Homo sapiens: one gene and its partners. The protein of the gene in region 3 interacts with the protein of the main gene of each other region in a pairwise test. Each region holds a gene or a part of one and is shown on either strand. Other genes may lie near its edges.

Evidence for each region.
Region 1: the proteins of EIF4E (region 3) and UBXN11 interact in binary tests that used the Homo sapiens proteins (3 or more experiments, as listed by UniProt).
Region 2: the proteins of EIF4E (region 3) and EMX2 interact in binary tests that used the Homo sapiens proteins (3 or more experiments, as listed by UniProt).

The regions. Positions count from the first base shown.
Region 1 is NC_000001.11:26,303,577-26,311,573, reverse strand, and holds the start of UBXN11 (UBX domain-containing protein 11), read left to right. Parts: upstream 1-4,937; 5' UTR 4,938-4,982; intron 4,983-7,997. UniProt on the Homo sapiens protein: May be involved in the reorganization of actin cytoskeleton mediated by RND1, RND2 and RND3. Promotes RHOA activation mediated by GNA12 and GNA13.
Region 2 is NC_000010.11:117,538,716-117,545,745, reverse strand, and holds the start of EMX2 (homeobox protein EMX2), read right to left. Parts: upstream 3,001-7,030; 5' UTR 2,479-3,000; coding exon 2,073-2,478; intron 1,441-2,072; exon of another isoform or gene 1,370-1,440; intron 1,181-1,369; exon of another isoform or gene 678-1,180; intron 115-677; coding exon 1-114. UniProt on the Homo sapiens protein: Transcription factor, which in cooperation with EMX1, acts to generate the boundary between the roof and archipallium in the developing brain. May function in combination with OTX1/2 to specify cell fates in the developing central nervous system.
Region 3 is NC_000004.12:98,919,124-98,926,227, reverse strand, and holds part of EIF4E (eukaryotic translation initiation factor 4E), read left to right. Parts: intron 1-7,104. UniProt on the Homo sapiens protein: Acts in the cytoplasm to initiate and regulate protein synthesis and is required in the nucleus for export of a subset of mRNAs from the nucleus to the cytoplasm which promotes processes such as RNA capping, processing and splicing.

The DNA of each region.
Region 1 (7,997 bases), on a different chromosome or scaffold from region 3:
CTACTCGGGAGGCTGAGGCAGAAGAGTCACTTGAACCCGGGAGGCAGAGTCTGCAGTGAGCCAAGATCGCGCCACTGCACTCCAACCTTGGCAACGAGTGTGAGACTCCATCTCAAAAAAAGAATAGAGACTTCCACCGGGCATGGTGGCTCATGCCTGTAATCCCAGCACTTTGGGAGGCTGAGGCGGGTGGATCATGAGGTCAGGAGTTCAAGACCAGCCTGGCCAACATGGTGAAACCCTGTCTTTACTAAAAAATACAAAAACATTAGCTGGGCATGGTGGTGGGCACCTGTAATCGCAGCTACTCGGGAGGCTGAGGCAGAGAATCGCTTGAACCTGGGAGCTGGAGTTTGCAGTGAGCTGAGATCACGTCACTGCACTCCAGCCTGGAAAACAGAGTGAGATTCTGTCTCAAAAAAAAAAAAAAAAAGAATAGAGACTTCCAGAACCATCTAGCCCCAGAGCTGGGGTCTACTTCCTCACCCTGCAGGTGGGAAACAGGTCCAGAAAGAGCCTTGTTCAAGACCTCCCTCCTCCCAGGCCAGGGCCTTTGCACCATCATCAGACTGAATATCCACCACTGGATGCGATCAAGATGAGGCTGGGCGACCCCATCTCAGAAGTCCAGAGGGAATCCTTCCAGCTTGGAAGTGGTCGGATGGGTCTCCAAGGCCCTCACAACACTCAAGTCTTGTGAGCCTGGAGACCTCAGAGATTTCCAGACCTTCTAAGATGTGGGAAGAGAAATATAGGTTAAAAAAAAAAAATCAGATGAGCTTAGACTCTTGGTTTCTTTTATAATTTTGTTTTTGAAAAAACACCTTTTTTTTTTTTTTTTTTTTTAAGACAGAGTCTGGCACTGTCGCCCAGGCTGGAGTGCAGTGGCGCAATCTTGGCTCACTGCAACCTCAGCCTCCCAGGTTCAAGCAATTCTCCTGCCTTAGCCTCCCGAGTAGCTGGGATTACAGGCGACCGCCACCATGCCCTGCTAATTTTTGTATTTCTTTCTTTTCTTTCTTTCTTTTTTTTTTTGAGATGGAGTCTTGCTCTTGTTGCCCAGGCTGGAGTGCAGTGATGCGACCTTGGCTCACTGTAACCTCCGACTGCTGGGTTCAAGTGATTCTCCTGCTTTAGCCTCCAAAGTAGCTGGGATTATAGGCGCATGCCACCACACCTGGCTGATTTTTGTATTTTTAGTAGAGATGGGGTTTCACCATGTTGGCCAGGCTGGTCTCAAACTCCTGACCTTAGGTGATCCACCCACCTCAGCCTCCCAAAGTGCTGGGATTACAGGCATGAGCCACTGCTCCTGGCCTAGTTTTTGTATTTTTTAGTAGAGACAGGGTTTCGTCATGTTGGCCAGGCTGGTCTCGAACTCCTGATCTCAGGTGATTCACCCACCTCGGCCTCCCAAAATGTTGGGATTACAGGTGTGAACCACTGTGCCCAGCCAAAAACTCCTCCTTTTTGGGCCGGGCACAGTGGCAAGAGGGTATAGTCTCTGCTACTTGGTAGGCTGAGAGGCCGAGACTGGAGGATCCCTTGAGCTCAGGAGTTCAAATCCAACCTGGGCAACATAGACAGAGTCTGTCTCTAAAAATAAATAAATGAGCAAAGAAAGAAAAGAAGAACACCTTTTCAGGAGCAATAATGCAACAACATTATAGGAATTTTTAAAATAGTGTATATATTTTTTTCAGCTGTTGTCCCCACTCATGCTGGGGCCGGTGCCTCATTATGGAAAATTTAATTTGTACAATAATCCTAGGAGGTAGATTCTATTAGTATCTCTACTTTACATTTGTAGACACTGAGACTCTGACAAGTGAAGTATCTTGAGCAGGAACAGCCAGCTATTAAACGACAGAGCCCAGCCTCATAGAGTTGTTAAGTTATGCTGGTCCACAGTACAATGTATCCCCAACAAATGATGGCTCTTATTATTTTCCAAGTTTCTCCAGTGAAATTGTATATTTTTATAATAAGGCTCTGACTTTCCCAATAAATGTTATTTTTTTAAAAAAAATCAAACCAGAAGGGCACGGTGGCTCACACCTGTAATCCCAGCACTTTGGGAGGCTGAGGCGGGTAGATCATGAGGTCAGGAGATAGAGACCATCCTGGCCAGCATGGTGAAACCCCATCTCTACTAAAAATACAAAAATTAGCTGGGGGTGGTGGCACTTGCCTGTAATCCCAGCTACTCAGAGGCTGAGGCAGGAGAATTGCTCGAACCAGAGAGTTGGAGATTGCAGTGAGCTGAGATCACACCACTGCACTCCAGCCTGGCGACAGAGTGAGACTCTGTCTCAAAAAAAAAAAAAATCAATTGACTCGGGACAGGGCGCAGTGGCTCACGCCTGTAATCCCAGCACTTTGGGAGGCTGAGGTGGGCGGATCACAAGGTCAGGAGACGGAGACCACACTGGCCAACATCGTGAAACCCCGTCTCTACTAAAAATACAAAAAAATTAGCTGGGCATGGTGGCGTGTGCCTGTAGTCCCAGCTACTTGGGAGGCTGAGGCTGGAGAATCGCTTGAATCTGGGAGGTGGAGGTTGTGGCGAGCCACGATCGTGCCACTGCACTCCAGCCTGGTGACAGAGCAAGACTCAAAAAAAAAAAAAAAAAAAAAATCAAACGACTGGCCTGCCAGGTTAGAGGGCTCCCATTTTCCTCCCAGGAAATAGATGTTTACTGAGTGTCTGCCTGCTGCGGAATCTACAGCCAGGCCCTGGGTGGGAAGAAGGGATGGGGTAAATCCTGGTGCCTGGGTAAATGCCACTCACGATCTGGTTCTTGCTGAGGCAGGAATCAGAGGGCAGACCACAGCAGGGCTCATGAGACCAGAGCTCCTGCTTCCCACGCTTGCTTATCTCCATGAGCAAGGTGACAGTATGAAGTTGCTACTCACCCTGACCATGGGTCCAACCTCAAAAAACACTTGGCCCCGACATGATCTCAGTCTTTCTCATCTTCATATACCTAAAACCTCAGAAAACTTTCTGGGAGCAGCTCAGCAACAAGAGAGCTCTTCCTATGTCCACTCTCCAGTCACACTTTCCGCCCAGACTCCTCCCTTGGCAGTAGGTCTGTACCACCTTCTTCCTTGGCTTATCTATGCCTGCCTTGTTTACCAGAGTGAAAGTTTCTAGGAAGAGCGTGGACTCTTGAGGCTGACCGTTCTGGGTTTGAATCCACTTCTGCTTCCTGCCTTTATAATCTTATGCAAGCCGCTGTACTACCCTGAGCTTGTTTTCTCATCTGTTTTTTTCTTTTTTCTTTTCTTTTCTTTTTTTTTTTTTTGACAGAGTTTCACTCTTGTTGCCCAGGCTGGAGTGCAATGGTGCGATCTCAGCTCACCGCAACCTCCGCCTCCCAGGTTCAAGCGATTCTCCTGCCTCAGCCTTCCTGAGTAGCTGGGATTACAGGCATGCGCCATCATGCCCGGCTGATTTTGTATTTTTAGTAGAGACGGGGTTTCTCCATGTTGGTCAGGCTGGTCTCGAACTCCCGACTTCAGATGATCCGCCTGCCTCAGCCTCCCAAAATGCTGGGATTACAGGCGTGAACCACCACGCCCGGCCCTCATCTGTAAATTTCATGTTACCATCTGGTACTTGGCACTCAGTAGTAGTAGCTCTCTTTAGCTTCCAATTTGCATATAAAGAATGCTGTCCACTTTGGGAGGCAGAGATGGGCGGATGGCTTGAGCTCAGGAGTTTGAGACCAGGCTGGGCAACATGGCAAGACCCCGTCTCTACAAGAAAATACAAAAACTAGCTGGGCGTTGTTGTGCACACCTGTAGTCCCAGCTACACTGGTGGCTGTGATGGGAGGATAGCTTGAGCCTGGGAGGCGGATGTTGCAGTGAGCAGAGCCTACCCTTCCCTGAATGTGGTAGGCTAGAAAGTCAAACGGAAAATTAAAAAAAAAAAAAAAAAAAAGCAACAGAAAAACACTCTTGGGTTGTGCAGAGAAAGGGCTTTTGAACCTGGGCACAAAGAAGTGAGTGCCTGAGATCAGAAATCATAAACTCCCAGACCATCACAGCTGAAAGGGTGAAGAGATGATGATGATGATTAACAGCAGGAAACGTTTTTGAAAAAGTGCTCTCTACAGGTGTTTCTGTTTCGGCTTTCCCCTTTAAAATCGTGTACTTTGCATTACCTTATTTAATCCTCACGGCAACCCAGTGGGGGTAGGTATTATCACTGTTTTACAGATATAAAAACTAAGGTGTATAAAGTGCCCAAGAACACACAGTAAGGAGCCAGGACTCCTAATTCCAAAGTTCGTGGTCTTAACTGCCTTTAGCTGTTTTGGTGACTGAGTCTAATCCAACACAATTTTACAGATGAGGCTCTGGGAGGGGAAATTGTCTTACCCAACTCTTAACACAAGGGAACTAGAATTTGGGCCGCCCTTCCGGGCGCCAATCTGGTCAAGGATTTGTCACAGAAACTCAGATTTAGGAAACATTTATTAAGTACTTGCATCATTGCAATCCATCCTCAAAGCAGCCTCCGTGAAGTATTACAGTACTTCGTGTTACAATACTGATCATATGGGGAAATAAGCTAAGAGGGATAATTCCTCCCAAGATCAATTTAGCAAAATAGCGGCACTGTCGGGATCACACATTCAGGTCCTGAATGTGAGGCTGCCAGCAGTTTCATTAACCTAATCCCAGGCTCCTTCCTCCCGCACCTGAGGGTAGGAACGAACCACCCCCCCCCCCCACCCCGCCCCGGACCTGGAGCCCTCTCAGAGCGGTGCATTCTGGGATTCGCCCGCGAAGAATACCGACTCTGTGGGCCAATAGAATCCGAGCACAGGCGACTGTATCCACCTTCGCTGTCTGCAGGTTGCTCAGGCCTCCCTCAAACTAGCCAATGAGAAGTGCACGGGTCCTGGTCGCCTAGGAAACCGCGTGACAACAAGATGGCGGCGCTGCGGGACGGCTAGCGGCCCTGCGTGGTGAGTCTGGCTTAAGACCTTTCTGCCCCTGGAGTCCCCACGCAGGCTGGAGCCCGAGCCCCGAGGGCCTGCGAGCTCCGCGGCTCCCACAGGAGAGGTTCAAGACCCTGCTTACCATGACTACGCGTGGAGGCGGAAGGAGGCGACACGGCCTCCAGGGCTGGGTTAGATCGTGATAGACGTCGCTCCCTGAGCGCGTCCTGGGGGCATTAGGGAGTCCTGGCAGCGGGCCGGACCGTGTCCCCGCCAGAGCTCTGGGCTCTGGGGATGACGGAGAGGCCGAGGAGGTGTGAAGAAGAATGTTGTGAGTCAAGCACAGCACTGAGTTTGGTTCCAAAGATGTAGAGGCATGGTGCAGAGATTTGCTCTCAGAGCCAGGTCTGAAGTGGGTGACAACTCTGCCTTAAGGACCTTTTGGCCTGAGGGGTAGTCACAGTCCTGCCCTTGGAAGCCCCAAAGTGAAGGAGTTAGGCGACTGTCCTCAGGGCTCCCTAATCTGAAGGAGAAAGAGATATGCCCCTGCCCTCAGGAGTCCCCCCAAACGGACAGGGAAATGCAGCCTTTGCCTTCAGGGGCCCTTGTAATCTGGGAGAAGATTAACCTGGAGACAATGTGTCGGACTGGACTGGAGTGACACTGGAAGTAGGGAAGTCAGTTGGGAGCCATGTGACAGCCCCCAGAATGGGCAGTGAGAGTCCCACTAGGACGGCCGACGGTGGCCATGGAAAGGGGCAGCTATATGTGAGAGAGTTTAGCCTGCAGGGTTTGATGTAAGAGGCAAGATGGCGTAAGAGGGAAGGAAGGAGAGAAAAAATGTGGTTGGGTGATGGGGTCCCATTAAGAAGGGGGAAGTGGGAGGAAGTGAGTTTGACGAAAATGTTGGATTTGGTTTAGGAGTTTTGTTTTTTTTTCCCATGACAGCTTTATTGAGATATAATTCACGTATTACATACTTCACTCCTTTAAAGTGTAAATTTCAATTTTTAGTATATTTTAGTATATATTCCATTTATATGAAATGTGCAGTGTGGGCAAGTCTATAGAACAGAAAGTAGATTTGTGGTTGCCTAAGGCTGCCTTGGAAAAGGGGTGGGGGCTGGAGGGTAAATTGGGGGTGACTGCCAAAGGGTACAGGGTTTGTTTAGGCTGACGAAAATGTTCTAAAATTGTGATGGTAGTACAGCTCTGTGAATATACTAAAAAGAAAATTACACTGTAAGAAGGTGAAATATGTGAATTATATCTCAAAGCTGTTTTATGAAAAAGGTTGCATACTGTATAATTCCATTTGTGTAACTTTTTTGAAGTAAGAAAATTATAGAGATGGGCCAGGTGGGGTGGCTCACGCCGGTAATCCTAGCACTTTGGGAGGCTGAGGCAGGAGAATTGCTTGAACCTGGGAGGCGGAGGTTGCAGTGAGCCGAGATTGCGCCATTGCTCTCCAGCCTGGGCGACAGAGCGAGACTCCATCTCAAAAAACAAAACAAAAAAAGTATTGAGGGGAGCTGGGTGAAGGATACAAAGGATCTTTCTGTACTATTTTCCTAATTTCCTGTGAATCTATAATAATTTTCAAATAAAAAGCTAAAATATAAGTGAAAAACAAACTGAAGGGGAAAAAAAAGAGTTAGCTGGCCAAGGGAAGGGTGCAGGTAGGAGTGGGGAGACCGTTCTGGGAGTGGGGGGATTGAGGTTGAGGCAGGGGGGATACACATGCATTTGAGGCATTGCTAGAAGTTGAGGTGGCTCAAGTGTGGGAGGCGGCAAGATGGGAGATGAGGTCAGGAGACATAAGCAGGGACCAGGTCACCTATATCAAGGAATTATGAATTTTTTTTTGAGATGGAGTCTTGCTCTGTCACCCAGGCTGGAGTGCAATGGCGCAATCTCTGCTCACTGCAACCTCCGCCTCCTGGGTTCAAGCAATTCTTCTGCCTCGGCCTCCCAAGTAGCTGGGATTACAGGTGCCTGCCACCAAGCCCGGCTAATTTTTGTATTTTTAGTAGAGATGGGGTTTTGCCACGTTGGTCAGGCTGGTCTTGAACTCCTGACCTTAGGTGATCCACCCTCCTCGGCCTCCCAAAGTGTTGGGATTATAGGTGTAAGCCACCGTGCCTGGCCAGAATTTTGAATTTTTTTCTGTGGGTGAGAAGTGCTGGGATTATAGGCATGAGCCACCGCTCCCGGCCTGCTTTATGTTTTAAGATCTCTCTGGTAGCACATGGGAACTAATGAAGGGAGCCTTGGCCATACAACCCGTGAGGCTGCCCAGACAGGGCAGGGGCTGGGGCAGGGTGGGGACAGATTTGGGAGGCTGGATGCTGGGGGTGAAGAAACTCTGGGCCTGATCCTTGAGGAGGGCTCCTTCCAAGGAAGGGGCAGGGCATGATTCTCAAACTCTGCAGTGAAGGCATTGGAGGCTGCCTCCAGGCAGCATAGATTCCCTTGCTGACTGACTTCAGAAGTAGGGTTGAGGCCAGAACCAGACATCTTCAAAGTGGAACTTCTTGGATTTGTCCTAAAAAATTTGGTCCAGGCTGGGTGCAGTGGCTCATGCCTGTAATCCCAGCACTTTGGGAGGTCGAGGGGGGCGGATCACCTGAGGTCATTTACTGAATAGAGTAGTAGCCTTCGATTATGTCCTTCAGGTGCACTCCTTTTTCCAGAAGGAAGAGGAAAGGAAAGGAAACTAACATTTACGAGTGCTTCCTATGTGGCAGCAACAGCAAAAACAACAGCAGCCCCAACTCACATTTTTCAGTGCTTCCTTTGAGCTTGGCGCTGGGCTAGACCTTCTCTGTTATCTCTGAATCTGCTCAGAACCCTGCCTGTGCCAGTACTATTACGACCCCCATTTTATACTAAAAGAAACTGAGGGTGGGTTACTCCAGTGAGTGGCAAAACCTGGCATCTTAACCTTGGTGTCACATGGACTGTGTCTTTTTTTTTTTTTTTTTTTTTGAGATGGAGTTTCGCTCTTGTTGCCCAGGTTGGTTGGAGTGCAATGGTGCAGTC
Region 2 (7,030 bases), on a different chromosome or scaffold from region 3:
CAAAGGCGTGTTCCAGCCTTAGAAGCTGGGACGGGGAGAAGGCGGTTCGGATCCGCTTGGGCTTTCGGGCCAGCGCGTTGTGCAAAAGGAAACTCTCGGGGCTAGTGTCGTTCCCTGCGGGGAGCACAGCAGAAATCCCATTAGGGGGGGCTGCTCTGACCGGAGCCGCGCACTTCTCCCGAGCCGGGCTGGCCCGGCACCGTGCTCAGGGCCTTCGCATAGCCGCGCCGCTCGACCTGCGGGGGCCGGTGGTCCTCCCAAGGGCTCACGAAGGGAACGCCTGCTCAGCTGCCCGGCCCGGAACGCCGGGTCTCCACCGGTGCGGCACCCAACCAGCCGCTGTCGCAGAGGAGCCAGTCCCCAGGCTCCTGACCTCGGCCGGCTCCGCAGCCGCCCTGGCGCCGCGGGCCTCGCCACCTCCTCGCCGGGCGCTGGAGGCAGGGGAGGGAGCCGCAGAGCCTGGCCAGGGGATTGGCGCCCACAACCCGAAGAAACTACTTTCTCTTCTTTCTAACCTCTCGGGGAACTTTGACCCACGGTGGAAAGGCGGCGGGCTGCTCTCCAGAGTTTTCATGGAGATTTATTTTTAAATTATTTGTTTTATTGCCCCTCCGGAAAAGTATAGAGGCGGGGCGAGTCGTTGAAGCCCGATCGGGACAGAAATCTGGCCGGCGGGTGTGCTTGGCTACAGCCGCTGCTGCCTCTCGCGAACTGGGCTCCGGGGCTCCCGGCTCCCGAGAACTAGAAGAGAAACGCGAGCGAAGGGATCGAAACCCGGGGGGTTACCGACTTGCAGACACCGCCAGGACAGTCTGTAACGCAGGAAGATCCCAGCGGCTCCGGGTCTGGTGAGGGGACCATAAGCATGACTGATAGCGAATGAGGAAGGGCAGCCCTAAACTTTTCAAGCAAAGCCTCAGAGTTTTGGGTTCACTCATTAGCATAGGAAATCGATTCACCGAAAACCCAAACAAAGAAAAACAAGCCGACAGTCCAGGCAGGATGCAGGCAAATCCAGTTCGGGATTAAGGGTAAAAGGCTTTTTGGGTTTTTTTTCCTTTGGTTTGATTTTTTAAAATATGGGGAGGGGGGTGACATCTACCCGATTCTAGGCTCCGGCAGGAACGCAATGGGTTAATGAATGGACAAGCCGCGGAGTATTGATCGGCTGCCGCCGGAGGTAGGTCTTTTACTGACTCCAATCCGTAAACTAATTACTCCTTTTTCTGAAGTTTTAACTCTCCTCCTCCCACCCCGTACCCAGAGAAAAACAAACAAATAAAAAATATCGCAAGAAATGAAAACACACGAACAGATATTTCCCTCTAAGACAGTTTCCTGACCAGGTTCTTTTTTTTTTTTTTTAAAGAAAGAAAGAAAAACAAAAACCAGACCGAACCTGCCTTCCCGCTGTGGCTGCTCGGCGCCCCAATTAAGCAGGTCGCGGCGAGAGCGCCAAGCCCTGGAGCTTTCCTCCCGCACGGGTTCCCGCCCCTCCCCAGGCCTCCGAAAAGCAGGAAAGAAAAAACAAATCCCATACTTTTCTCCCGGGGCGCGAGGATCCTCTCGCCTCCAGAAGAGGGTGGAAGACTAAGAAGCCGCGGGTCTGGACTGAAGGGGCGCAAAGTGGGTGGTGAACAGGGTCGAACGCAGTCGAAAGCAAGCCTGGCGGCCGAGTCCTGTCCGCGCCCCTCGGAGCCAGGACGGTTGGGGGCATTGCCGAGGGTACCAGGAGCCTGGGGATCCCGCGGGCTCTGGGCTCCGCGGCGCCGGGCACGCACAGCCCAGCCTGCTCTGATTCGAGCGCACTGGGGGACAACTTCTCCGTTCGCACCCCTTCCCAAAGGGTCAAGCGGCCCGCAGGCCATCACTCCAAACCAGTCGTAGCTTCGGAGACTGGGGATCGACACCACGCCCGGCCCCGCGCCGCCTAGTTTCCCAACAGGGCGCGCTGGCCCGCGAGCCGGAGGAACCTCCGCCCAGGCCTTGCCAAGCGCCCACCCGGAGCAGGCCGGGGGCAGTGAAGGATGCGGCGGGAGCGGCGCGCTGCAGTTCCGCGACGTGGCACGTACCTTGGAAGCGATGACCCAGATATCGGTAGCGGTGGATGAGCCAGGGGTAGAAGGTGGACGGATCCCGCTGCTGCGAGGCGAATAGGGGGTGTGGCGAGTGCGAGGAGGGTAGGGGGTGGGCGGCCAGGGCGTGCGGCGGCGGCACCGGGTGCACTGGCACGGCGGGGTTGGGCGGGTGCGAGACCGCCTCGGCGAACACCAAGTCCGGGTTGGAGTAGACGCCCCTACCGGCGGCGGCGGCGGCGGCCGAGTGGAAGCCGTTGAGGAACGGATTTATGGGGCTGGAGTTAGCGTAGCTGAGTGCCGCGGGACGGATGGGGTCCTCGGAGCGCGAGGCGGGCAGGGGACTGTCCTTGGCCACCAGCGACTCGATGGTGAAGCAGCGCTTGGGCGCCGGCTGGAACATGCTGCGCCGAGGAGCGGGCGCCCTGGGCTCCCAGCTCCTGGCGACCGCCGCACGCTGCCTCCGCCGCCCGCTGCCCGCGGCGAGGACGGACGAGAATTGGGGACTCGTTTGTTTGGGGTGGGGGTGGGGGTGGGGGGAAGGAAAGGAAGAAAGAAAGGAAAGGAAAGGAAAAAGGAAAGGAGGGGGGAGGGAGAGGGAGAGGCAAAGCCGAGGATCCCGAGAATCTTGCACCAAACGCGCCCAACCTGAAGAGAGGGGGGAAAATCCTTCCAGAAGAATTTGCAGGCGTGGATTGGGGTAATTTTTTTTCTTTTTTTTTCTTTTTTTTTCTTTTTTTTTTTTTTTTTTTTTTTTGGCGAGATGGCGTGGGGGGATCGGAGTTAGAGGCAGGGAGGAGAAGGGGGGAAAGTTCTCGGGGGAGGCAAAAAAAAAAAAAAGTTTTTTCTCCTCTGCAAAAGGCGGGCAGGGCGCCCTAAGTCCAAGGACAATCCATGGAAGTGTTCGCTTCTTCACAAGTTGTGCAAACGATTTGTTAGTTCATGAGCCTAATTAGTGCGGGGATCACATAAACAGCTTCCTCCGAAGCCTGGTAAATGGCTTGATGATTGGTCGCTATTACTCGCCCTGAGGTGGAAGGGGGGAGACTCTTTAAAGTGCGTCAGAGGGAGGTGAGCGCCTGGGAACCCGGAGGCCTGGATCCGGGCCGAGAGTGGAACGGAGTCGGCGCCGCCGCCTCGGCTGAGCCTTCTGCCGCCCACCGGGCGGCCGGGCTTCTCCGCGCCTTCGCCCCTCGCTCCCAGCTCACTCGCTCCTGCGGCGCCCGCTGCGGCTTCTCCTCCTCCTTCGCCTCCTCCTCTTCCTCCAGTTTCTTCTTCTCCTCCTCCTCCTCTTCTTCCTCCTCCTCCTCTTCTTCCTCCTCCTCTTTCCCCACCTACTCCCCCTCAGCCACCGCCTCCTCCTCCACCAGCACCACTCCCTCCGGGGCACCCCGGTCCCTGCAGAGTCCCTGGCCGGCGCCGCCTCCGCTGCGGCCCCCTGAATCCCGAGCCTGCCTCGCCCAAGCTGGTAGGACAGAAGGACAGACAGATTCCTCTAGCCTAGCGCTCCGCCGCTGCTGCCTTACGCGGCCCCGCGTCGGGAGAACTGGGATCGCCCCAAGAGCACCGCGAGGGTAAGCGGGCAGGGGCTGGTTCCCGGGCTAAAGGCGCCGTTCGGTTATACCAATCCCCACACTTAGCAAAACTCCCAGCGGTTTCCTAGGCCAGGAGGGATCCTGGAGTGAGGGGTACGGGGTCCTCCCACCCCATCAACCACGCTTAGCCTCGAGGTCCCAGGGTCGGTGCGTTCGCGATTCTTGACCCGGCTCGTTCGTTTGCGAGTTGAGACCGGGAGCTGCCGACCCCGCCGGAGCAGTGGGCTTCCAACTCTCTCCCTCTCTCGCCCCACGGTCTCTAGCGTTTTCTGTCTGGGAGGGTGCTCACCTCCTTCCCCAAAACAATTCCTTCTGGAATATCTGGGACCGGCAGTCCAAGGTCAGGGGAGAGCCCGATATGGTGCTACTGTACTATTAAGGTTCCGTCGTAATTATTTTTGTCAGTGTGGTCAATGTTATTATTATTATAGATGATATTATTTTATTATTATTATTTCTATTATTATTATTATGCCATCTGTTGTCCCGGGGTTGGTGGGGGGGTGGTGGTTGCTGTGCAAACCCAGTGCAACTAACGACTACGGATCGCATCTCCGGTCCCGGGCCGTGTCCGCATTTTCGAGCTCGCCTTCGGTTTTGGGATGATTTTAGGACCGAGTTCCCTCGTCCCCATTGGCTCGCGCGGCGGCATAATTATGATCACATCCCCAGGCTGCTGGCGCTGCTCTCTGTTTATTGGTGGTTAAAGATCTATTATCTATTCATCAGCCGCCTCTTTTTTCCTTTTTTTCCTTTTGCCAATTACATTCTTCTAAAGTGAAGTACCAGCAGGTATTTTGCACGTTTACAATTAATGATAAAAAAAAATTCTAGCGTCGTTTAAAACTATTACTCCCAGGCCCCTGTCATTTCTCCTAAGAACGCAGAATTGCCTGTGTTTGGTGACTAGGTTGCCGTGAAACCTGGGAAGCCGATGGCAATGGGAGGAGAAGAGTGAAGTCCACCGTGAGCCAGGCTGCACTGCCACCAGATGCATAGTTGAGGGGACAGGTCTCAGGACGAGCTACCTGCTTCCTCCCTTGGTTTCATCTGGTGTATATTTATGTTTGTGTCAATTACTCCTTTATTCCAGATATAATGTTGTGTTGGGGCAAGTGTCCAAAAACCTCTTTTGGGAAACCAGGCAAGAGAGGAGTTGGGAGCAGTGTTTTCCGGGGTTGTCAGGGCACCAGACAGATTCGTGAGGAACTGGCAGAGATCATCTTTGTTGCCCCCACCCCACACCTTCCCAGGGAACACACATACACATCTTCACAGATGAGACAGGTGTGCGCCTCAGCTTTGCCCTCACAGTGGGAGACACCTGCCTTTCCCTTAGGCTTCGAAGTTCTGGGCTGGGGTCCTAGCCCAGTATTGTCCCTCTGTCAGTTCCAGGTGGCTTTGCTTTCTCCTCCTCCCCTTTTTCCAGGCCCAAAGATTCTGGGCTTTGGATCCAGCCCTTGGGGTAGGGGTGCACTTAAAGATGCACCTCCCTTGGGCCTGGACCACTGTCCCCCAAAATATTGTCTACAGTTTGGAAATCCCTCTCTCAATTAGGCTGTGAGGTTACAGGCCTCTCCTCTAACCCCAGCTAGGCCAGCAGGGAGCCTGAAGACATGGCAGAGGGGGGAGGTCTTTTGGCTGTGCCCAGCCAGTAAGCTTAGGGTGGAGCTAGAGGTCCGCCCTCAGGTTTTTGAGGCTGGAAACAAACACTCAGCTTAGGCAGACTGTGCATCCTGAATCCTGGCAAGCAGGAGAGTGCACCTTTCATGCAAACTTCAGAAGGAGGACTGGAGGGCCAGATTCTGGCAGTGCCCTCAGGCCAGACCCTCCAAACTCAGCCTGAGACTCAGAGGTTGCAAACTGGAGCCACTGAAACTCCACCCTTAGTGATCTTGGATGGGGGCATAAAAGTCATTGACCTTTAGGGCAACAGGTATCCAGTCTGTCTGGGAGATTGGGTGAGACCCAGATGGTTTGTGATGTATAAGGGTGATGGGTGCCTTCCCTCTTTTAAAACTTGCAGCCCTGGGCGCTAAGGTGCAATCATTATTCCCTTAACCAGGACAGTGTTGGGCTGGAGATGGGACCCCTCAGCCTTCTGCCCCAGGCAGGGACATCTGGCTGCAGTAGAGGGGTAGAGTGCTCCACAGTCCCACTTCAGTCAGTCGGCATCCTCTGCAGGCTACCTGCCTTTTATAAACTGCCCTTCTGTGGCCAGGTTTGCCCCAGGGGCTCTAGCTAGCCAACACGTAGGCAGGGGTAAAGGGGCAGCAGGATCTGAGATCTGGTGTCCCCCTTCCTGAAGGAACCAGGATATGCTAGTTCCTCTGCTCCAAGTGCTGCTAGACCCGAGCTGCACTCCAGCCCCTTGAAGGAGAAGCAGGTTTCCAGTGAGTCGGGCAGTTCAGAACCCCAGAAGCTGGGTAATCTATGCTAATTCATGCATGGGTAATCTATGCTAATTCCCGGGGCCAGAAGGGCCCGGGAAGGTTCGCGGGGTCTGGCCCCGATGTGCAGGGAAATTAACTAGGATAGTAACTCATTAACCAGACTGGCCAGTGGAGTCGTGCCAGGGCACTGGGCACTGTGGTCTGGACTGGACCCTAAGCTCCTAGATGGCGCAGCTGCCCTGCCACTCAACTTTACTTGTGGATTTAGGCCTTGCAGAATACAGCCACCTTTGTTCCTTAGCTGCCCAAGGAGTGGGTGTTTGGTTAAGTAGCCCTGCGTGGAGTGGGAGATGTGGGGATTTCTGAGGCTCCAGCTTAGAGCAAGGGGCTTCCTCCCTCTGCCCCATGTGTGCCCCAAGCCACTGCTGCCTCTTGGGCTCTGTAGACTGAGGAATCTACCTTTCCAGGTAGCTGGACTAGCAGACACATTCAAACGTTCTAATTCCGAATCTGTCACTGAATGACCTTGGGCAACACAGAAACCTCCCCACCTCATTTTGTCATATGTAAAAATACAGCCAATGCTGTCTGGGAGGCAGTGGGGAGTAGCAGTGGGCTTGTTTTGGAGAAAGATAGAACTATCCTACTTCCTGATTGTGGTGGTATTTACATGACTCTATGTGTTTTTCAAAACTCACAGAACCATATACTACAAAGGGTGAGTTTTACTATATGTAATTATACTTTAATACACCTGCCCCCATCCCCCAAGATGAGAGACTTGCATTTACAGCTTAACTGTGTGACCTTGGGCAAGTTACCTAACTTCTCTGTGCCTCGGTTTTCTCTTCTCTGAAATGGGAATAAATAATATAGTACCTTTGCTCTGGGTTTGTTCAATGAGATAAACAAAGTAAAGTGCTTAGACAGTGTCTGGCACATAATGAACTACAATAAAAGTTTGCTC
Region 3 (7,104 bases):
GCACAGGCTAGTTATGTGGAATTATTTTTGACAGTTTTAAATAGTTGGATTTTGTGTGTAGGGGTGCAGGATCTTGCTCTGTTGCTGGGGCTGGAGTGCAGTGGCGCGATCATAGCTCACTGCAGCCTCAAACTCCTGGGCTCAAGAGATGCTTCCATCTCAGCCTCTGGTGTAGCAAGCACTACAGGAGCAGGCCACCACGCCCGGATAATTTTTAAACTTTTTGTAGAGATGGAATCTCGCGATGGTTACCCAGGCTGGTCTCAAACTCCTGGACTCAAGTGGTCCTCCCACCTTGGCCTCTCAATATGTTGGGTTACAGGCGTGAGCCACCGAGCCTCGCCTGGATTTTTTTTTGAAGCAACTGATTAGAATTGGATTGTACTTGAGATACCCCTGCTGAAGGCTGCAAAAATCATGTTTTTTCTTACTTCAGCTAGTTTGTGAGCTTCCATAATGGTTTTCTGCTGTGCATAATCATAAACACTTAAAAAGAGCCATGGGCTTTTCCTGCTTATCCCATCATGCATAGGTATCTGGATGATTTTTGTCTATGGACATTACATAAAATATCATTTTCAGTTTGATATTATTGTGTGGTTTTCTCTTTGTATGAGTTGAGTTACATGAAGATGTGGCCCACAAATATTAAATTTGTTGAGAAGCTTGAAAGGGAAAATTAAGGGAAACATTTTACCTCTTAACGGATAATTTGGCAAAAATTTGAACGTTAGGGCAAACGGTACTCTGATGTTATTCTATCGGCATTTGAATTGTGGCTGGGTCAAAATTAGGTTTAATATTAGTCTGTGAAAATGGCAAGGCCATCTTACCTCCAGTAGGTCGTGTTTCTTTGTAGCTTTATCTTCATTCTACATCGTTCATTATTAGAATTAAAAAAATTTTTTTTTGACTTGTAGTTCCTTTTGAGGTAAGAGATTAATTTTGATTTCTTTAGCTTAACTGAAAGTGTATAATTTTACTTGTTTTTACATTGTAGCTCTTGAATTTTTTGAAACCACGCTAATTTCATAAGTGAATCAACTTGGACAATCAGCTAATTTAATGCTTCCTTTTTTATACTTTGGAAACATGCTCTGTACTACACAGCTTATTAATAAGAGTAAATAAGGTTTATATACATATTGACAAATATTTGTTGTACTATATAATTCATATTAATGAACAATTGAATGCCAACCAGACTATGCAAATTAGTGGACTTTTTGCTTAATGAAAGAACCCACTATATCAGAGTTCCTCGATAATCCACGTAAATTTGGCTCTGGGGTTCATATTCCAGATTTCTTCAATTAAAAGAAAAAAATATACTTGCTGAGTGCGGTGGCTCACGCCTGTAATCTCAGCACTTTGGGAGGCCGAGGCGGGTGGGGATCACTTGAGGTCAGGTGTTCGAGACCAGCCTGGCCAAAATGGTGAAACCCTGTCTCTACTAAAAATACAAAAATTAGCCAGGCCTGGTGGCAGGCGCCTGTAATCCCAGCTACTGGGGAGGCCAAGGCAGGAGAATCGCTTGAACCTGGAGGTGGAGGTTGCAGTGAACCGAGATGGTACCACTGTACTTCAGCCTGGGCGACAGAGCAAGACTCCATCAAAAAGAATAAAAAAAAAAACAGAAACAAATTTCACACTTCATTTTATAATCTGAGTTAATGAGCATGATTATTAGACTTAGAGAAATTCAATGTAGACACACAGTTTATACACAGAAGTTGCAGAGGGATAATATGCAAAATGAATTATGTAAGCTTACTCTAGTTTGGACAGAAAACTGTAGGCAAAAAACATTTAAGTAAAATATTGTTTAATTTACATAAAGTTAAGAATATGGGCCGGGTGCGGTGGCTCATGCCTGTAATCCCAGCACTTTGGGAGGCCGAGGTGGGTAGATCACCAGGTCAGTAGTTTGAGACCAGCCTGATCAACATGGTGAAACCCCACCTCTACTAAAAATACAAAACTTAGCTGGGCGTGGTGATGCGTGCTTGTAATCCCAAGGTACTCAGGAGGCTGAGGCAGGAGAAGCTCTTGAACCTGGGAGGCGGAGGTTGTAGTGAGCTGAGATTGTGCCACTGCACTCCAACCTGGGTGACAGAGCGAGACTCCGTCTCAAAAAAAAAAAAAATAAACAAAAGAAGTTTCCTTAATCTATTAGTACCGGTGAGTTGCACCATCTTAGTCATAGAGACTTTTTTGAGAAGTGGAAATGAGCATGGGTTATAGTCTCATCTTAATATCTGAGTGATCTTGAAGACTGAAATTTCTAAGTCAGCTGAAAGTCGGAATAAGATATATTACGGTGATTTCAATTTTTAAATGCAGTATTCAAAGGTGACAGTTTGTCAACTGTAAGGGACTAAAGTTGACATTCCATGAATGTTTTATACTCATGTATATCCATGCATTTACATACTATTTTCCCTCTTTTCTTGGAAATTCACATTGCTGCTTTTTAATTATCAATCCTTAGCCATTAGCAAGAAATGCAAAGCCTGTGATTCACAATCCTAAGATGTTCTTCCCACTCCTATCCCTACCATAAAAATCACTAGTGTTCCTTCAAAAGTCCCTAATCATGTCTCCAGAAAAAGAAAGGGGCTGGGCTTGGTGGCCCACACATGTAATCCGAGGCTTTGGGAGACAAAGGCAGGAGGATCACTTGAGCCCGGAGTTTGAGACCAGCCTGGCCAACATGGCGAGACCCTGTCTCTCCAAAAAATTAAAAAATTAGCTGAATATGGTGGTGCACACCTGTGTCCTAGCCTCAGGAGGCTGAAATGGGAGGATCCCCTGAGCCTGGGAGGTCAGAGCTGCAGTGAGCTGTGATCACACCACTGCATTCCAGCCTGGGTGACAGAAAGAGACCCTATCTCACCAAAAAAAAAAAGAAAAAGAAAATGATTTTGCGTGTGTGTGTGTGTGTCTAAAATACTAATAGTCATTTCTGGGCACTTCTGGAACCTGAGAATGTGGTCAGAAATATAAGGGGTTTTTTTTTTTTTGTTTCCCCAGTTGGAACTTTTGATACATTATTCCATAGAAACAGTAGGAAAATGGGCCGGGCGTGGTGGCTCACGCCTGTAATCCCGACACTTTGGGAGGCTGAGGTGGGCGGATCACCTGAGGTCGGGAGTTCGAGACCAGCCTGACCAGCATGGAGAAACCCTGTCTCTACTTAACAAAATTACAAAATTAGCTGGGTATGGTGGCACATGCCTGTAACCCCAGCTTCTTGGGAGGCTGAGGCAGAAGAATCGTTTGAACCTGGGAGGTGGAGGTTGCGGTGAGCCTATGTCTGCCATCGCACTCCAGCCTGGGCAACAAGACTGAAACTCCTTCTCAAAAAAAAAAAAAAAGAAAAAAGAAAAAACAGGAAAATGAAGTTTAGTCACACTATATTCAGTAAATTTTTGTGGAATCATTACAAATCTAACCAGCATTGGATTTATAGGGATATGGAATTAAGGATATGGATTTATAGTTGTAAGCAACTAACTAAAAAAACCTTATAAACATACCTTGTTTGTAACAGCTATTTTTAATGTAGAAAGATCGTTATTTGTAATTGCTACACATAGCACTTATTCTATGTTAAGTACCACACTGAATGCTTTACATATATTAACTCATTTATTTCTTTTTTTTTTTTTTTTGAGACAGCGTCTCACTGTTGTCCCAGCTAGAGTACAGTGGCGCGATCTCGGCTCACTGCAACCTCCGCCTCCTGGGTTCAAGTGATTCTCCTGCTTCAGCCTCCTGAGTAGCTGGGACTACAGGCACGTGCCACCACGCCCGGCTAATTTTTGTATTTATAGTAGAGATGGGGTTTCACCATATTGGCCAGGCTGGTCTCGAACTCCTGACCTCGTGATCCGCCCACCTCAGCCTCCCAAAGTGCTGGGATTACAGGCGTGAGCCACCGCGCCAGGCTAACTCATTTAATTCTTAACAGTACAGATGAAGTAACATTGTGTGACTAACTTGCTCCAAAATCACACAGCTATTAAGTGGTGGGGTGGAGTTTAAATTAAAGCAGCCAAAGTGCAGAGTGTATATTCTTAACCGTTGCACTCTTTCAAGTAGGCATGTAATGTGCTTTGCTTGGGTGACTTCAGAAGGGGAGATGTGTTTTGATAAGCTTACTATGTGTTTTGCTACAGCTATAAAATAAAACGTGTGGGCATTTATTTTTAGGCCCTGTTATATTACAATGTTAGATAACAAAAATATATAATCTTGAGGACTAAACCAAGCAATTACACCAATCGTGTTTTAGTAACTAATTGAGAACTTTGTGGATTTCTAAAGAAAGTGGATGGACACTTAACCTTCTCCCCCTTTCTAATTTGATTTCTGGCATTTGCTAGTTCGTATGATTTCCCAGTTAAAATATTTTGCTAGTGAAAAAAGTTTTAGTACATTTTTAAAAGTTTGTGAATTTTGGATTTATTCTAGACTTAACTACCTTAGTACTTTTAGTAATTTTGGTGATAAGTCTGGCAAAGGGTAAAACAGTTGTTTTGAAAAAGTTTAAGCTAAAATGTACACATACGTGTTTCTTGGTGTATTTTAAGCTTGTTACTACAAAATGCTATACAGAAATTAGTTGTAATATTTTTTTCTGTGCTCTGCTCATTACTGTCATTGTAATCTCTACTAAAAATACAAAAATTAGCCAAGCGTGGTCACGGGTGCCTGTAGTCCTAGCTACTTGGGAGACTGAAGCAAGAGAATTGCTTCAACCTGGGAGGTGGAGGTTGCAGTGAGCCGAGATGATGACATTGCACTCCATTACTGTCATTGTAATGAGCAGAGCACAGAAAAAAATATTGTAACTAATTTTGATATATATGTCTACATATATATGTCAACATATTAGTATTGCCGTGAAACTTCTTATGGGGCAGTAAGCCTATGTTGGCACAAAATCTGGTCAGAAGTATTAACTAAGGCAAGAAAGTTTGATATTTTAATTGATATGTGAAATGTATATTTTTTCTTATAGTTCTTTTTCTGATGAATAAATGAATACTTTATAGGTGAGGAATTCATATTTCAAGTGATTTTTAACTTTCTACCACGGTCACATAGTTCCTTAAGTGTTACATACAAAGTTTTGGTGCCGCAAAAGGAATAGCACTTGAATATAAAATTTTTTTTTAATTTTTAGCAAGGCAAGTTATTTTTATAGAACTCATAATTAACATAAGTGAGAGAGAACTCAAACCTGAGTGTCAAGCTTTATTACTATCTTGTGTAAAAAGAGGAACAAATTCAACCAAAACTAAAGTCCATCCTTCAGTAAAACTTGTATGTTAGGGTTGATACTGATGCGTAGGTACACAAATAAGTGTAAAATTCTAACTGAAAGAATATGCCAGATGGTTTATGGATGGTGGGATTAGGAGGGTTAAATTTTTTTCATTTGAACTTGTATACTTTGTTACCATGTTGTGGATTGTAAAATCTGTTTTGGATGTTGGTTTATACATCATGGTATTTAGCTTTTCTTTATTTTTTGTTTTTTTTCTTTGACTTAGTTACATACTCATGGTCCAAAATAGCAATTTGGTAAAGCCTATAGCCCCTATCTTAGAGTGTTTTAAAATGCAGGCCAGGCACAGTGGTTCATGCTTGTAATCCCAGCACTTTGGGAGGCTGAGATGGGCGAATCACCTGAGATCAGGAGTTCGAGACCAGCCTGGCCAAAATGGTGAAACCTTATCTTTACTAAAAATACAAAAATTAGCCGAGCGTGTTCATGGGTGCCTGTAGTCCCAGCTAAGGCTGAGGCAAGAGAATTGCTTGAACCTGGGAGGTGGAGGTTGCAGTGAGCCGAGATGGTGCCATTGCATCCAGCCTGGGCAACAAGAGTGAAACTCCGTCTCAAAAAAAAAAAAGAAAAAAGAATGTTTTAACATGTATTACATAAAATGCATAGGTTTACAAAGGAAACCAATTTATACTGAAGTACAACAAGGATTGAATTAGCATGAGTCATATTAAGGACATTATCTGGCACAGGCTAAGTTCTGTCTAATGTGGAAAACCTATCTCCTGCCTATCTTCCCCAACCACCTCATTCCCCTTTCCAAATTGCCCAATTACAATTTTTTGAGGATTCTACTAGAAAAAGTCTGTCCAGGAGAACTTTCTGAGATAATGGAAAGGGTATTTTTTACTGTCCAATACAGTAGCCACTGGCTGTACATGGTAATTGAGCATTTGGATATTGTGGCTTGTGCAACCAAGGAAATAAATTTTAAACTTTATTTAATATTAATAATTAACCACATGTAGGTAATGGCTACCTAATTGTGCAGTATGGCCTCAGAAGCTAGAAATTCTGGCCGGGCATGGTGGCTCACGCCTGTAATCCCAGCACTTGGGGAGGCTGTGGCAGGTGGAGCACTTGAGGTCAGGAGTTGGAGACCAGCCTGGCCAACATGGTGAAACCCCATCTCTACTAAAAATACAAAAATTAGCTGGGTGTGGTGGCACGTGCCTGTAGTCCCAGCTACTCGGGAGGCTGAGACAGGAGAATCACTTGAACCTGGGAGGCGGAGGTTGCAGTGAGCCAAGACTGCACCACTGCACGCCAGCCTGGGTGATAGAGCAAGACTCCATCTCAAAAAAAAAAAAAAAAAAGAAAAAGAATCTAGAAATTCTGGTGTGTGCAAATGTATGTATACATATTGTATTTAGTTCAACTTTATAAGGTATAACTGGATATGTCCAGTTTGGTTAGATACATGATTCTATCCTAGAAAAGCTTGTCGCTCTGTATTTTAAACTTTGAAAGATAGTTATTTACTCTTGTATAGAATTAGAATTTTTCTGTGGGTTAATGTTTTTTTTTGTTTTTTTTTTTTTTGCTAGTCTTTTTGTTTCTGTTTTTGTTTTGAGATGGTGTCTCACTCTGTTGTCAGGCTGGAGTGCAGTGGCACGATCTCGGGTCACTGCAACATCCACCTCCCGGGTTCAGGTGACTCCTGCCTCAGCCTCCTGAGTAGCTGGGACTACAGGTGTGCGCCACCACTGCCAACTAATTTTTGTGTTTTTAGTAGAGACAGCATTTCACCA